Linked DNA regions of Homo sapiens: region 1 is reported to be linked to region 2. Evidence: microRNA targets listed by miRTarBase, many of them from high-throughput screens and not tested one by one. Region 2 holds a microRNA gene; the other region holds the end of a gene's coding sequence.

Region 1 (7,674 bases), not on the chromosome of region 2:
TATGAAAATACATAGTTTGGGGACTATTGTCATTTAATTTTTTAGTCATAATCATAGGAACTCTGATATTTAACAGCATGTTCAAAATATTATGTTCTACAGAAAAAGTACACATTTTTATCTGTCAAGAGAAAATATTTTCAAAATGTTATAGAATAAGAATGTGTCAAATACTGTATCTTTGTGGTAATCTTGGCTAAATAGTATCAAAAATATGTATTTTGGGGCTATTATTGTCATTTGTCAGTCATAACCATAGGAACTCTGATATTTAACAGCATGGTTTGGACCCAGCACATTGCATGGGAGAAGCCAATGTACTTTAGGATTTTTACTTTAAGCTTGGGCCACCTGGAGTTTCTGGTACTGGTGGTAATGGTATGAAAGCCACTAAAGGGGCAGGTGTTGCTTATGGTCCCATGACTGGCCAGTCTGTGAACACAGTAAACTAGTTTGCATGCAAAATAACAGAATGTTTTAATCCAAAACTTGTCATGATCTCCAAATGTTTTTCAGAGAAAATGACCCAGGAGTTGGCTACAGCTTGGTGACTAAAAATAAAAACCGTAGACTAAACTTCTCCCACTAAAAGAAAAAATATAAAAAATAAGAGAAATTTCTCCAAATTGTAAAATCAATATAGAAAAGACATATTTTTCTAAATTTTAAATTCAGAGGTCATTTTATTATTTTGCAATCTTTACCACCACACTTAAAAGATTCTGCACGGAAATGTAAATTGTGCTGTAATTATATCATAGAAAATTAAATTCGTGGCCGGGCACTGTGGCTCATGCCTGTAATCCCACCACTTTGGGAGGTCGAGGCGGGCGGATCACGAGGTCAGGAGATTGAGACCATCCTGGCTAACATGGTGAAATCCCGTCTCTACTAAAAATACAAAAAAATTAGACGGGTGCGGTAGCGGGCGCCTGTAGTCCCAGCTACTCGGGAGGCTGAGGCGGGAGAATGGCGTGAACCCGGAAGGCGGAGCTTGCAGTGAGCCAAGATCACACCACTGTACTCTAGCCTGGGAGACAGAGCAAGACTCTGTCTCTAAAAAATAAAAAGTAAAAATAAAAAAAGAAAATTAAATTCGTTTACTATTAACTCTCTTAAAAATTTAATTTCCATATTTTCAAGCAAGTTTTATATTTGCCACACTTTGTATAAGAATCTAATAAGATTTTTCTTTTAAAAACAAAGAAATGCAATGCTAATTTAATCCTCTTGCCTGTGGACAGTGTGCGCCTTTAATCTTTTTTTTTTTTTTTTTTTGAGACAGAGTTTTGCTCTTGTCCAGGCTGGAGTGCAATGGCGCAATTTCGGCTCACTGCAACCTCTGCCTCCTGGGTTCAAGCGATTCTCCTGCATCAGCCTCCCGAGTAGCTGGGATTACAGGCATGCGCCACAACATGTGGCTAATTTTGTATTTGTAGTAGACACGGGGTTTCACCATGTTGGTCAGGCTGGTCTCGAACTCCTGAGCTCAAGTGATCCACTTGCCTCGGCCTCTCAAAGTGCTGGGATTAGAGGCGTGAGCCACCACACCTGGCTTTTATCTTAATTAACTAATCTGAATGTTATATTGATAAGCGAACTCACCAGTTAAAATCCATTTTTAAGTGCACTAAAAATAGAATTTTGTCATCAAAATCTACAAAATACCAGGCGAAATGAAATGGCGTGAAGAGAACAGTCAGAAAACTGTAGCTATAACTCAGAAAAAGAAGGGCTGTGATGCATACATAGTTGGAAAATACATACGAGAAACAAATCTGAAGAGAAGTAGAAAATAAAAGAAGCAGAATTTATTTTTTTTTTTATGAGTCTCATTCTGTCACCCAGGCTGTAGTGCAATGGCACAATCTCGGCTCACCACAATCTTCGCCTCCTGGGTTCAAGCAATTCTTCTGCCTCAGCCTCCTGAGTAGCTGGGCTACAGGTGGATGCCACCACAATCAGCTAATTTTTGTAGTTTATTAGTAGAGACCGGGTTTCACCAGGCTGGTCTGAAACTCCTAACCTCAGGTGATCCATCTGCCTCGGCCAGAATTTCTCTTTAAATTCAGCAAGATTCAGTTTTATAGTCTGGAAAAAATGTCCACTCCATATGAAGAATCAATCTTATTTCTTCACCACTGATATCTTTCATTTCTGACTTGAAATTACAAACTAACTCCAGCAGGAATATTTGTGAATTATTATGGAGCATCGATTACACAGTAAGAACTGTAATGTATGTTTGCTACATTTATATATAAAAACATCCTCATGACTTATGAAGCCCCCCAGTACTTACCTGAACAAATTGACTCAATAAATAAATATACTTATGTCAATTATAAAAAGTGAAAGGAACAATCACTAAAGAAAAGAAAACTTATATATTGTTCTCCCCTTAAAAGAACAAAATGGAGTGCTCTCACTAAATAAAATGTAACTTAATACACTACTTTTGGAATTACATCTAAAAATTATTTTGTGTGCACTAAATTTCATAAAAATTCTTATAATCACAGACCAGCTCATATAATGAATACTTCCTAAACCATAAAACAAAAAAAATGTAAGAAACAAAAAAAGTATGGGTCTAGCATGAGTACCAGGCAAGTATATACAGAGAATTTGCATGAAAAGGTTCAGAACTGTAAGTCATGGATTGTACAGTAATAAATTCAATACAAAGCACAAAGTATACATTTGCTTTCAGCATTTTTTAAGGTTTTTAGTTTTATAGTAGCCACCTTATTAAAATGATTTTTATTCCCATATTGTTCTTTTCTGAAAATAGGTACAAACTCATACTCACACACACACACTTATTCCATAATTTTCTTACACCTAAAGTTTGTCTTTAGACTAATACATATTTAACTCTATGTGAATCAAAAAGTCTGCATGTTTGCAGGCAGACAGGCCACATGTTCAAAGAAAAATATATAACAATTTGGAAAAAATATTAATAGTTTAGAAATGAATTTTATTTATACTCATATATAATTTGTATTATGACCATAAAAATAACTCTATAGTAAATAACAATTGTACATTTTAAAATTTATAAAAAGTGGCCGGGCACGGTGGCTCATGCCTGTAATCCCAGCACTTTGGGAGGTCAAGGCAGGCAGATCATGAGGTCAGGAGATCGAGACCAGATCACGAGGTCAGGAGATTGAGACCATCCTGGCTAACATGGTGAAACCCCATCTCTACTAAAAATACAAAAAATTAGCCGGGCATGGTGGTGGGCGCCTGTAGTCCTAGCTGCTTGGGAGGCTGAGGCAGGAAAATGGCGTGAACCCGGGAAGTGGAGCTTGCAGTGAGCCGAGATTGCACACTCCAGCCTGGGCGACAGAGCGAGACTCCGTCTCAACAACAACAAGAACAACAACAACAAAAAATTTTTAAAAAGTGTAGGTTTGGATTGTTTGTAAAACAAAGGAGAAATGCTATGGGTGAAGGATGCCTCACTTAACCCTGATGCTACTATTATATATTGTATTCCTGTACTAAAATATGCCATATAAGTGCATAAATATATACTCATATTATGTACCCACCAAAATTAAATTTAAATGATTAAAAACAAAATAAAAATTTAACCTACAGAAACAATATTCTTTAACTTATTTGCGGTTTAAAGCCACTGGCAAAAAAAATTACTAGAGATGTTAATCCATTATGTTACTAAATAGTATATCGTTACCATCTTTTACCTATACCCTTCAGTAAGGTGGAACAGGGTAAAGTTTGTGGTATAATAATGCTTCATTGAATGCACAATAGTATTTAACATGTTAAAAATGTTAAACTATTAACTTCACACAATCTAAAATTTTAAAAATGTACTGCATCTTATATAAAAGTACAATTAGTATGATAAACTAAATTTTAAATAAAATTAAATGTTTTTTCATAATGCAGAATATTACTCTGAACACCAACCTCATGCACCACTCAATATTATAAGTTAACCCCAAAGAACCTCTCCACTTACATTTTCATTATGCATCTTACATTCTAATGTTTTTACTTTTCAATAGAAAAGATCACAAATAATGCCCACCTAATAAAAAAGAATCTCTTGCCAGGAGCAGTGGCTCATGCCTGTGTAATCCCAGCACCTTTGGAGGCCAAGGTGGGTGGATCACAAGGTGAGGAGTTTGAGACCAGCCTGGCCAACATGATGAAATCCTGTCTGTACTAGAAACATAAAAATTAGCTGGGCGTGGTGATATGCGCCTGTAATCCCAGCTACTCAGGAGGCTGAGGGAGGAGAATCGCTTGAAACTGGAAATTGAAGGTTGCAGTGAGCCGAGATCATGCCACTGTGCTCCAGCCTGGACGAAAGAGCAAAACTCCATCTCAAAAAAACAGAACAAAACAAAGAAAGAATCTTTCATATCTTTGATACAGCAATAATTGATCCCATGCTTTCACATGTGAATCCAATAGGAATGAAGAAACGGCAGGAATTTCAGAGTTGAATGACATCATTATTCACTTTTCAAAAAATCTGTAATATTTTTCAAGAAATAAAGTATACTTTGAATGTAATTATAACTGCAAAAAACCTTCTGATCCTCTTAAAGTTATATACAAATAATTTTTCTACCAACTTTAATTTTCTATACTCAGCCCTCTGATTTAGTATATCTGATGTTGTCAGTGCCTTATGTATTTCTACCATAAATTCTGATATTTACACAGACTTACTTATGGATTAAATTTTTTTTAACTTTTACTGCATCTGCAAAAATATATTCTAGTATGAACTCTGTTTTCTAAGCTGTAGTTTTTGAAAAAGTGTTTTTCCAAATTTACTACATTTGCATGATTTTTCTTCAATATAAATTCCCTGATATTGAACAAAGTGTGAAAGTGCTTCAGAGTTTTTCCTCTACAAAAAATGTCTACAATAAGATCTGTGATACAAGTAAAGGCACTACTACCCACTTTATATTTGTAACATTCATCTTCAAAATAAATATTCTTCACTGTAAAGTTCATATTTTCTTTTTTTTTTACTTTTTAGATGGAGTCTTGCTCTGTGGCCCAGGCTAGAGTGCAATCTCAGCTCACTGCAACCTCTCCCTCCCCAAGTTCAAGTGATTCTCCTGCCTCAGCCTCTTGAGTAGCTGGGATTACAGGCACCACCACCGCAACCGGCTAATTGTTGTATTTTTAGTAGAGATGGGGTTTCACCATCTTGGATAGGCTGGTCTCAAACTCCTGACCTCATGATCCACCTGCCTTGGCCTACCAAAGTGCTGGGATTATAGGCCTGAGCCACCACGCCTGGTCAAAAGCTTGTATTTTCTGAAAGGTCTTTTGACAGTAATTGTACTTATAATGCTTTTATTAAGTATGAACTATCTGGTGTTGAGATATGAACATATATTAATGGCTTTTTCAGTCTTTATATTTGTATAATTTATCTCAAGTACAAATGCTTTCCTGTGCAATAAGGTGTGAGCACTGGTTAAGTTTTGCCACATTGTTCACACATGTAGGTGTTTTCTCCAGTATGAATTATCTTACCTACAATCAAGTGTGACAACCATTTAAAGGCTTTGTCTCATTCTTCAGATTTCTAAGATTTCTCACCAGTATAATTTCTTTTATGGTTAGAAAAGTTTGAGGTGTTGTCAAAAGCATTGCCAGATCTTTCTGGTTTGCAGAGTTTCTTTCCAGTATGAATTATGTTATGTCTGTTAAGAATTGAGGGCTTGTTAAAGGCTTTGCCATGTTTTTCACCCTCGTAGGGTTTCTGTACAGTATGAATTTTTAATGCCTAGTAAGAGTTGAAGACTGGTTAAAGGCTTTGCCATATTCTTCACATTTGTAGAATTTCTCTCCAGTATAAATTATTTTCTTAAAAAGGTTCGAGGACTGGTTGAAAGCACTGGCACATTCTTCACAATTGTAGGGTTTCGTTCCAGTATGAATTTTCTTTTCTTTTTTTTTTTTTTTTTGAGACAGAGTCTTGCCTTGTGGCCCAGGCTGGAGTAGAATGGCGCGATCTTGGCTCACTGCAACCTCTGCCTCCCAGGTTCAAATGATTCTCCTGCCTCTGCCTCCCAAGTAGCTGGGATTACAGGCGCCTGCCACCACACCCAGCAAATTTTTGTATTTTTAGTAGAGATGGGGTTTTACCATGTTGGCCAGGCTGGTCTTGAACTCCTGACCTCGCGATCTGCTCACCTAGTCCTCTCAAAGTGTTGGGATTACAGGCATGAGCCACCATGCCCTGCTGAATTTTCCTATGTTTAGTAAGAGTTGAGGATTGGTTAAAGGCTTTACCACATTCTTCACATTTGTAAGATTTCTCTCCAGTATGAATTATGTTATGTTTAGTAAGGTTTGAGGATCGGTTGAAAGCTTTGCCACATTCTTCACATTTGTAGGGTTTCTCTCCAGTGTGAATTCTCTTATGTGTAGTAAGGTTTGAGGATCGGTTAAAAGCTTTGCCACATTCTTCACATTTGTAGAGTTTCTCTCCAGTATGAATTATCTTATGTTTGGTAAGGTTTGAGGATTGGTTAAAAGCTTTGCCACATTCTTCACATTTGTAAGGTTTCTCTCCAGTATGAATTATCTTATGTATAGTAAGTTTTGAGGAGTGGTTAAAGGCTTTGCCACATTCTTCACATTTGTAGGGTTTCTCTCCAGTATGAATCATCTTATGTGTAGTAAGGTGTGAAGACACATTAAAGGCTTTGCCACATTCTTCACATTTGTAGGGTTTCTCTCCAGTATGAATTCTTTTATGTTTTGTAAGGGTTGAAGACCAGTTAAAGCCTTTGCCACATTGTTCACATTTGTAAGATTTCTCTCCAGAATGAATTATCTTATGTTTAGTAAGGTATGAGAATCGGTTAAAAGCTTTGTCACATTCTTCACATTTGTAGGGTTTTTCTTTAACATGAATGAACTTATGTGTAGTAAGGGCTGAAGGGTGGTTAAAAGCTTTACCACATTCTTCACATTTGAAGGGCTTCTCTCCAGTATGAATTACCTTATGTGTAGTAAGGTGTGAAGAATGGTAGAAGGCTTTGCCACATTCTTCACATCTGTAGGGTTTCTCTCCAGTATGAATCATCTTATGTGTAGTAAGGGTTGAGGAGTGCTTAAAAGCTTTGCCACATTCTTCACATTTGAAGGGTTTCTCTCCAGTATGAACTCTCTTGTGTCTAGTAAGGGTTGAGAACCGCTTAAACACTTTGTCACATTCTTCACATTGGTAAGAATTCTCTCTAATATGAATTCTTTTATGTTGATGTAGGTGTAAAAGCATGCAAAATGATTCATCACATTTTTTACATTTGAAAGGTTTCTCTCCAGTATGTCTTGTCTTGTGTCTATTTGAATTGAAAATTTTATGAAAGACTTTTATATATTTATCACATGGAAATATTTTGCTCTGGGTAGTTGTCAAACACTGGTTTAGTTCATTATAACCTTTTTTGTACACCTTACACTCAACCACATTTGCGGAGCCTTTTCTTAACTGTAAATTCTCATGTTCACATTTGCCATGTCTTCTCAGTATCACTTGTTGAAAAGAATCTTTTATGTCTTGCTCTGGCCAAAGGTCTCTGGTAAAAGAAGAACACATAGCTGAAAGAAATACAAACAACAAATTATTCAACTTACTAGACTCTGATAAAC
Region 2 (7,616 bases):
AAAATCATCAACCAGTTCTTCAGTGGAAAAGATAACTTTGTCAGTTGGCTGGAGATGAAGAAGATAACTGGCCAACCAGTGTTTGTGTTACAAGGCTGGCAAACTCAAATGCTGACTAGACCAGGCAGGTGGAGTAAATGAGCAAAGCAACAGGTGTAGGATCACAGGAAACAGTGGGGCCCCAAGGCAAACTGGAGAGGGAATGCTTCATTAGACGTGGAAGCATGCAGCTCCAGCCCACTGCTGCCAGATCGTCTGACTTCTCCACAAGCCAGAAATCCAGATTATGCAAAACTTCCAGATTTTTAATGTGGATTAAACAAACATCTGTAGACCAAGTACTTGTGTAAGTTTGTTTGTTTGTTTGTTTATTATTATTTTTGAGACAGAGTCTCACTCTGTTGCCCAGGCTGGAGTGCAGTGGCACGATCTCGGCTCACTGCAAGCTCAGTCTCCCGGGTTCACACCATTCTCCTGCCTCAGCCTCCCGAGTAGCTGGGACTACAGGCGCCTGCCACCACGCCCAGCTAATGTTTTGCATTTTTAGTAGAGACAGGGTTTCACCGTGTTAGCCAGGATGGTCTCGATTTCTTGACCTCGTGATCTGCCCGCCTTGGCCTCCCAAAGTGCTGGGATTACAGGCGTGAGCCACCACGCCCAGCCTGTTTATTTATTTTTTGAGACACTCTGTCGCCCAGGCTGGAGAGCAGTGGCACAACCTCGACTCATGCATCCTTGACCTCCCGGGCTCAAGCGATCCTCCCACCTCAACTTCCTGAGTAGCTGGGACCATAGGCAAGCACCACCACACCCAGCTAATTTTTTTTTTAAATTTTTTAAAATTTTTTGTAAAGTCAGGGTCTCATTATGTTGCCAGGGCTGGTCTCAAACTCCCAGATTGCTGGGATTACAGGCATGAGCCGCCATGCCCAGCCAGATGTCATTTTTAAATTCGCACAAAAAACTTTATTAAATTCAGTGAGGCTTATTAAAAATAAAATCAACTTGCTTTAATAGTGGATTTGGTATGGGTGGGTCTTGTGATCCTTATCAAATCATTTAAAAATGTTTATTAAAGTGTAACATACACAGAATGGATAAAGTGTACTAATCTATGTAAAGGGTAAAAATGATATAGAACATTTCTAACACCCACAAAAGGTTCCATCAAGACCTTTCCAGCTTATTCCAGACTTTCCAGCCCACCTTGGGTCTACATCATAAATGAGCTTTGCCTATTGTTGTCTCGTTCACATCTTAGCCATGAGAAACTGATAACAGATATAGTTGCATCAAGTCTGAAAGAAATAAAACTGTGTTCAAATAAGTAAGGTACAACCAAAAAGAATGATGGTAAACTCAACAACCCCATGCAGTTCACAAAGTTAGCCAAGAGCTCTGGTGATTACTGCTTTCACACACCTCTTCTTTCTGATAACTACCATCTCCTGTGCGGTTACCATATGCCAAGTACTTGCTTGTCACCCTGCTTCTGCATAGAGGATCTCATTTAAGTACCACAAAAACCCCCTGAGATACAAATTTAGATAAAGTTTCCTCCAACCGTATAGCTAAAGGAAACTGAGTTTGTAATAGGTTATGCAGCTAGATTCACACAGCCAATAAGTGAAAAGTCCAGATTCAAAGTCAGGGCTACTCCAAAGTTCAAGTACTTTTCCATTGCACTCCATAGCCTCCCCATAAAATTAGGGGTGTGTTTTCTTAGCTCTTCCACAAAACTATGATAACCTTCTTTTCTTAACCAGGAGCATAATAAACCTTATTTAATTTAGAATCTAAATTCTGAATGATTTACATTATAAGGATTGGTGGAGGTGTGGGTTATTAAAAGATGACATTACCTAGGTACTTAAAAAAAAACAATGAACACAGTAAGAAGAAGAGAGAGAAAATATATCACTATCTTTTATTAACATAGATATTATCTACCTTTATTTACCTAAACCAATTTCCTGGGGCTTATGGAAACATTGTCTTATATGAATATAGTTTTGAGACAGATGGCAGAATTTGATGTTTAAAGATTCTTCTCCCTCTCAGAAAATGTATGCAGCATGGAAATGGAGTTAGAACAGTGGTGGCTGCAGAATTTCTTATAAGAGGGGCTAAATGTTAGCAACTGGATTGTGAAGGAGTTATAGGGGACTTGTCTTGAACCTGTGTTACGCATAATAAGTTCAGATTTTACCTAGACTGGAGCATTTTTCTAAAGATTCTTTAATTCATCCTTTAACAAGATTGATAAACGTGAATTGTTATATTAAAGAATATTATTTTATTGGGTAGACAAATAATACAGGAGGCAGAGGTATTGGTCTACAGCCCCACCATCTTCCAATACCAGTCCCTGTCCTTTATTGCTGCCTCTAGGGAGGCTGGAACCATTCACCTGATGCCAAATGATTGGAAGAACAGGGCAATGAAGGGACTTAGAATAATTCCTAGTTAACCAATGTACTGCTGACAACAATACACAGTAAAGAGTAAACAATCAGACCTTCCCCAGCACCTCGTCCCTTTGGTGGATGGGGAAATTTGATTTGCCCATATTTTTAATGTAGAAAGATATAGACCACTAGGAATTAATTTACACAGAGGGCTTTTTAGCCTGTGATATGCGAAAATTTCAAGTATAGATTATCTTTTATCTCAACAGACACACTGACACCGATTACCCTTTTGGAACGCTAGAGTCAGATCTATTTGACCAGCTCCTTCTTATACTTTAGGTAGATCAGAAATTCAATTAAGGTTTGGTGAAATACTCATGTTTACCAGGAGCATTTGTTCCAGTATTCAGTTCTGAACCCTAACCTCCAGGATTACGTTCAATGAATAATCAGCTGAGTTGGCCATGTCACCATTCACCAAATCAATACCTATTGCTTAAACTGTTTTTAACCCAGTTTTTATTTTTGCTTTAATCACCAAAGTCCTTTATTTTTATTTTTAAAAATTTAATTTAAAAATTAAAAATATTTATAACAAAATTTACCATCTTACCCATTTTTTATTTTAACATTTTAATTTTTAATTTTTGTGGTTATAAAGTAGGTGTATACATTTATGGGGTACGTGAGATGTTTTGATACAGGCATGCAACACATAATAATCACATCATGAAGAATGGGGTATCCATCTCCTCAAGCCATTATCTTTTGTGTTACAAACTACCCAACTACACGATTTTAGTTATTTTTAAATGTACAATTACATTATTATGGATTATAGTCACCTTGTTGTGCTATCAAAGAGTAGGTATTAGTCATCCTACCTTTTTGTATGCATTAACCATCCCTACCTCCCCACCAGCCTCCTACTACCCTTCCCAGCCTCTGTAACCATCCTTCTACTCTCTGTGTCCATGAGTTCCATTGTTTTGATTTTTAGATCCCACAAACAAGTGAGAATATGCAAAGTTTGTCTTTCTGTGCCTGGCTCAATTCACTTAACATAGTGATCTCCAGTTTGATCTATGTTGTTGCAAATGGCAGGATCTCATTTTTTTAAATGGCTGAATAATATTCCATTGTGTGTAAGTACCACATTTTCTTTATCCATTCATCTGTTGATGGACACTTAAGTTGCTTCCAAATCTTAGCTATTGTAAAGAATGTTGCAACAAACACAGGAGTCCAGATACCTCTTAGAGGTACTGATTTCCTTTCTTTGGGGTATATACCCCATAGTGGGATTGCTGGATCGTATGGTAGCTTTCTTTTTAGGTTTTTGAGAAACCTTGAACTGTTCTCCGTAGTGGTTGTACTAATTTGCATTCCTACCAACACTGTACGAGGGTTCCCTTTTCTCCACATCCTCACTAGGATTTGTTACTGCCTGTCTTTTGGATATAAGCCATTTTAACGGGGGTGGGATGATATAATATCTCATTGTAGTTTAGATTTGCGTTTCTCTAATAATCAATGATGTTGAGCACATTTTCATATATCTGTTTGCCATTTATATGTCTTCTTTTGAGAAGTTTAACAATATTGATTCTTGCAATTTGTGAACATGGAATATCTTTCCATTTTTTGTATCTTCTTCAACTCCTTTCATCAGTGTATTATATTAATAGTTTTTATTATAGAGATCTTTCACTTATTTGGTTAATTCCTGGGTATTTAATTTTATTTGTGGCTATTGTAAATGGGATTACTTTTTAAATTTCTTGTTCAGATTGTTCACTGTTGGCATATATTGGGCTGGTGCAAAAGTAACTGCAGTTTTTGTCATTACTTTTATTGGCAAACACTGCAATCACTTTTGCACCAACCTAATAGAAATGCTGCTGATTTTGGTATGTTGATTTTGTATCCTGTGACTTGACTGAATTTGTTTATCAATTCTGCTAGTTTTTTTGGTGGAGTCTTTAGGTTTTTCCAAATATAAGATCATCTTATCTGCAAATAAAAATAATTTGCTTTCTTCCTTTTCAGTTTGGATGCCTTTTCTTTCTCTTGTCTAATTGCTCTAGCTAGGACTTCCAGTACTATGTTGAATACCAGTAGTGAAAGTGGGTAGCCTTGTTGTGCTTCAGATCTTAGAGGAAAGGCTTTCAATTTTTTTCCCATTCAGTGTGATACTAGTTGTGGGTCTGTCATCTATGGCTTTTATTATGTTGAAGTATGTTTCTCCTATACCCAGTTTTTTGAAGGACTTTTATCATGAAGGGATGTTTATCATGAAAGGATCAAATGCTTTTTCAGCTTCACTTGAAATGATCATCTGGTTTTGTTCTTCATTCTATTGAGAAGATATATAGTATTGATTGATTTATATATGTTGAGCCATCCTTGCATCCCAGAGATAAATCCCGCTTGGTTGTGATGAATGATCTTGTTGGTGTACTATTGAATTTGGTTTGCTGGTATACCCGTTTTTTAAGGGTGCACTTCAGTGGCATTAAGTATATTCCCATTTTTGTAGATCCAATGTCCAGAACTCTTTTCATCTCGCAGAACTGAAACTCTGTACCTACTCAACAAAACTCCCTAATCTCCCCTCCCCCAACCTGTGGCAACTGCCATTCTACATTTTTTGTGTATGAATTTGACTACCCTGGGTACCTTATACAAGTGGAATCATTTACAGTATTTGTCTTTTTGTGACTGGCTTATTTCACTTAGCATAATGTCCTTAGGGTTCATCCATGTTGTAGCATATATCAGAATTTCCTTTGCTTTTAAGGCTATACATTTCTTTTTTTAATCACAAAATGATTTGAGTTTATGTAGCTAATCAATCAATTAGATTAAGAGGGAGTATCCGGTCTGTCTAATAAGAGTTTAGGCATGAAAAATGGTAAGAAAGGCGTTGGTAGAGAGGGAGAGAGAGAATTTGCTGAAATATTTAATGCCATGGTTCTTTAGGGTGCATCAGAATCATGGGGAAGACTTGGTAAATCAGATTGCTAGGCTCAAACTCCAGAGTTCCCAATTCATTAGGCTTAGAGCAGGGCCTGGGAATTTGTATTTTCCAGAAGTTCCTGGGCATGATCACACTTTTGACAACCATTGTAACCTATCCAGGGTGAGGCCTAGAGGATTCTAATTGCCAAAATTTTCCCATCGTGCAAAGAAGATACCCCTCCCAACTAAGACAAGAAGCTTGAAGTTATAGAAGTAGGGAAGCACAGAGAAGAGTGAGAAATAGTGAGAAAACCCAGCCCTCAAGATCCCAGCAACTTGTGGAAATGAGGGAAAAGATGGTGGCAAGTCAAGCTGTGAGGACCAAGTTCTGATTTCTCTTCTAGCCTCAGGGAGGAGAGGGAAAGTGTGTGAGCTAAGTGAGGAGAATGTCAAAGGGCTCAGGGAACCCTGGCTCCACTGCACCATTTGAGACCCTAGGAGAAGGTCACTGGAGTAGGTCTGGCCTGGCTCAATTTCGAGGTCTCTAGAGGTCCAGACAGAAGGAAGAATCTCAGACATCAGACGGCAACCAGCAGACTTGCAAGGAGGCAACTATGGTGGGGTGAGATGATCCTAGGATGGGCCCTGGGTCAGGAGTTGCTGGGATGAGAGTTTGGCAGATGCTAAGTTGTCTGAAGCTAAGGGGAGCTGAGCAGAGACTGAATCTGTAAGTGTGGGGTTGCCAGCAATCCCAGGGGCATTGCCCAGGCCATGGCTGACCATGGATTTACCAGCTGCAGGATTCAGCGTTGGAGGCCAGCAGTGGCTGGGAAGGCTATGGACAGAGCCAAGGGACCAGGGGAGATGGTGCCAAAGACCTGCGCTCACCACTTCTCCAAATCCCCAGACACTGTTTAGCAAGACAGCTGGGCAGTGGAGAAAAAAGATGACATCTGAGCAAGGGAGGATTTTATTTCAGACTGAGCCCCTTAAGGGACTATTCAAATTGATTGGACCAGGTGAGCTTTTAACTTGGCCAGGAATAAAAATTATTATTATTATTATTATTATTATTATTATTATTATTATTATTATTGCCAACCAGCAGAAGTGGGTTTGTAAGGAAGACAAGGAACCTACATTTTTTTCTATACATCTAAATTGTCATGTGACTAGGTTTGGTAGATAAAATTGGGTACCTACTTTGACTAAAATAAATTCAATGATTATCAGAAATTCAAATTTAATAGGACATCTGTATTTTTAATTGTTAAATCTGGCCACCTTACCTTGTTGTGCCTGTTGAGGGCAAGTGACAGATCTAAATCTCAATTTTATTGAGTTTCAAGCTTGTGTTCATATTTCTTTCTTTCTTTTTTCTTTTTTATTTTTTTTTTGAGACAGTGTCTAGCTCTGTCACCCAGGCTGGAGTGCAGTGGTGCAATCTCAGCTCACTGCAACCTCTCCTCTTGGGTTCAAGCAATTCTCCTGCCTCAGCCTCCCAAGCAGCTGGGACTACAGGCGTGTGCTACCACACCTGGCTAATCTTTTGTATTTTTAGTAGAGACAGGGTTTAACCGTGTTGACCAGGCTGGTCTCGAACTCCTGACCTCAAGTGATCCACCTGCTTTGGCCTCCCAAAGCGCTGGGATTACAGGCTTGAGCCACTGAACCCAGCCTGTGTTCATATTTCATAAGCAGTTGGGTAGCAGAGAAAACTAGTTCAGAATAAATCTCTTCCTACCCACAAACCATAAAGGGGCAAACCCGTACACTGTTATACTGCTAGAGCTGCCCCTAAAACATGCCAATCACTTTTTTCCAGTATATTCAAGATGCAGATATTTACATTTGAACGATCACAATATCCCTAGAAAACAACTCCCAAAATTATGAAATGAGTCTTTAAACTGTATATACTATTAGGATATCTGACACATCCTCTGTCCCTCACCTCCCTGGCCCACCATCATTGACCACTAAGGTTTCCTACTGACTGCACTGGGAATAGTCCTCAGGGGAAGTGTCAGTCACACAGGGAGACCTCAGGATGCCCCAGAACATGCAGGCTGCAGTGGCCAAGGTCAGCCTTTATTAAGATCACTTTCTGCCCATGACCTGAAGGTCCTGTCACCTATCACGGTATACAGTTTGTCACTGAGATTACACCATTGGGAACTCACTCCTTTAGGGTAAGATGTTGACAACCTGCAAAATTGCCCTTTAAAATATGAATAGTAACTT

The links. The annotated mature microRNA hsa-miR-548ah-5p reads AAAAGUGAUUGCAGUGUUUG and lies in region 2 at 4,270-4,289, opposite strand. An mRNA with a match to its seed (bases 2 to 7 or 8) in the 3' UTR can be bound and repressed. Matches are read on the target gene's strand: a 7mer-m8 pairs with bases 2 to 8, a 7mer-A1 pairs with bases 2 to 7 and ends in A, and an 8mer does both.
Region 1: the mRNA of ZNF714 is a reported target of hsa-miR-548ah-5p. Seed matches in the 3' UTR shown: 7mer-m8 at 2,349-2,355.

Annotation. Positions count from the first base shown.
Region 1 is chr19:21,116,756-21,124,429 of GRCh38, reverse strand. ZNF714 (zinc finger protein 714) reads right to left here. Exons shown (of 5, transcript NM_182515.4): 5 at 1-7,623. The coding sequence ends at 6,098. It also overlaps the pseudogene VN1R81P. Among named protein-coding and RNA genes, the nearest start is that of ZNF431, 21 kb to the left of the region's middle.
Region 2 is chr4:76,572,234-76,579,849 of GRCh38, reverse strand. It overlaps MIR548AH (microRNA 548ah), which reads right to left and starts at 4,299; the gene lies at 4,224-4,299. The region is part of intron 2 of SHROOM3 (shroom family member 3); the gene reads right to left. MIR4450 (microRNA 4450) reads right to left here and starts at 6,282; the gene lies at 6,218-6,282.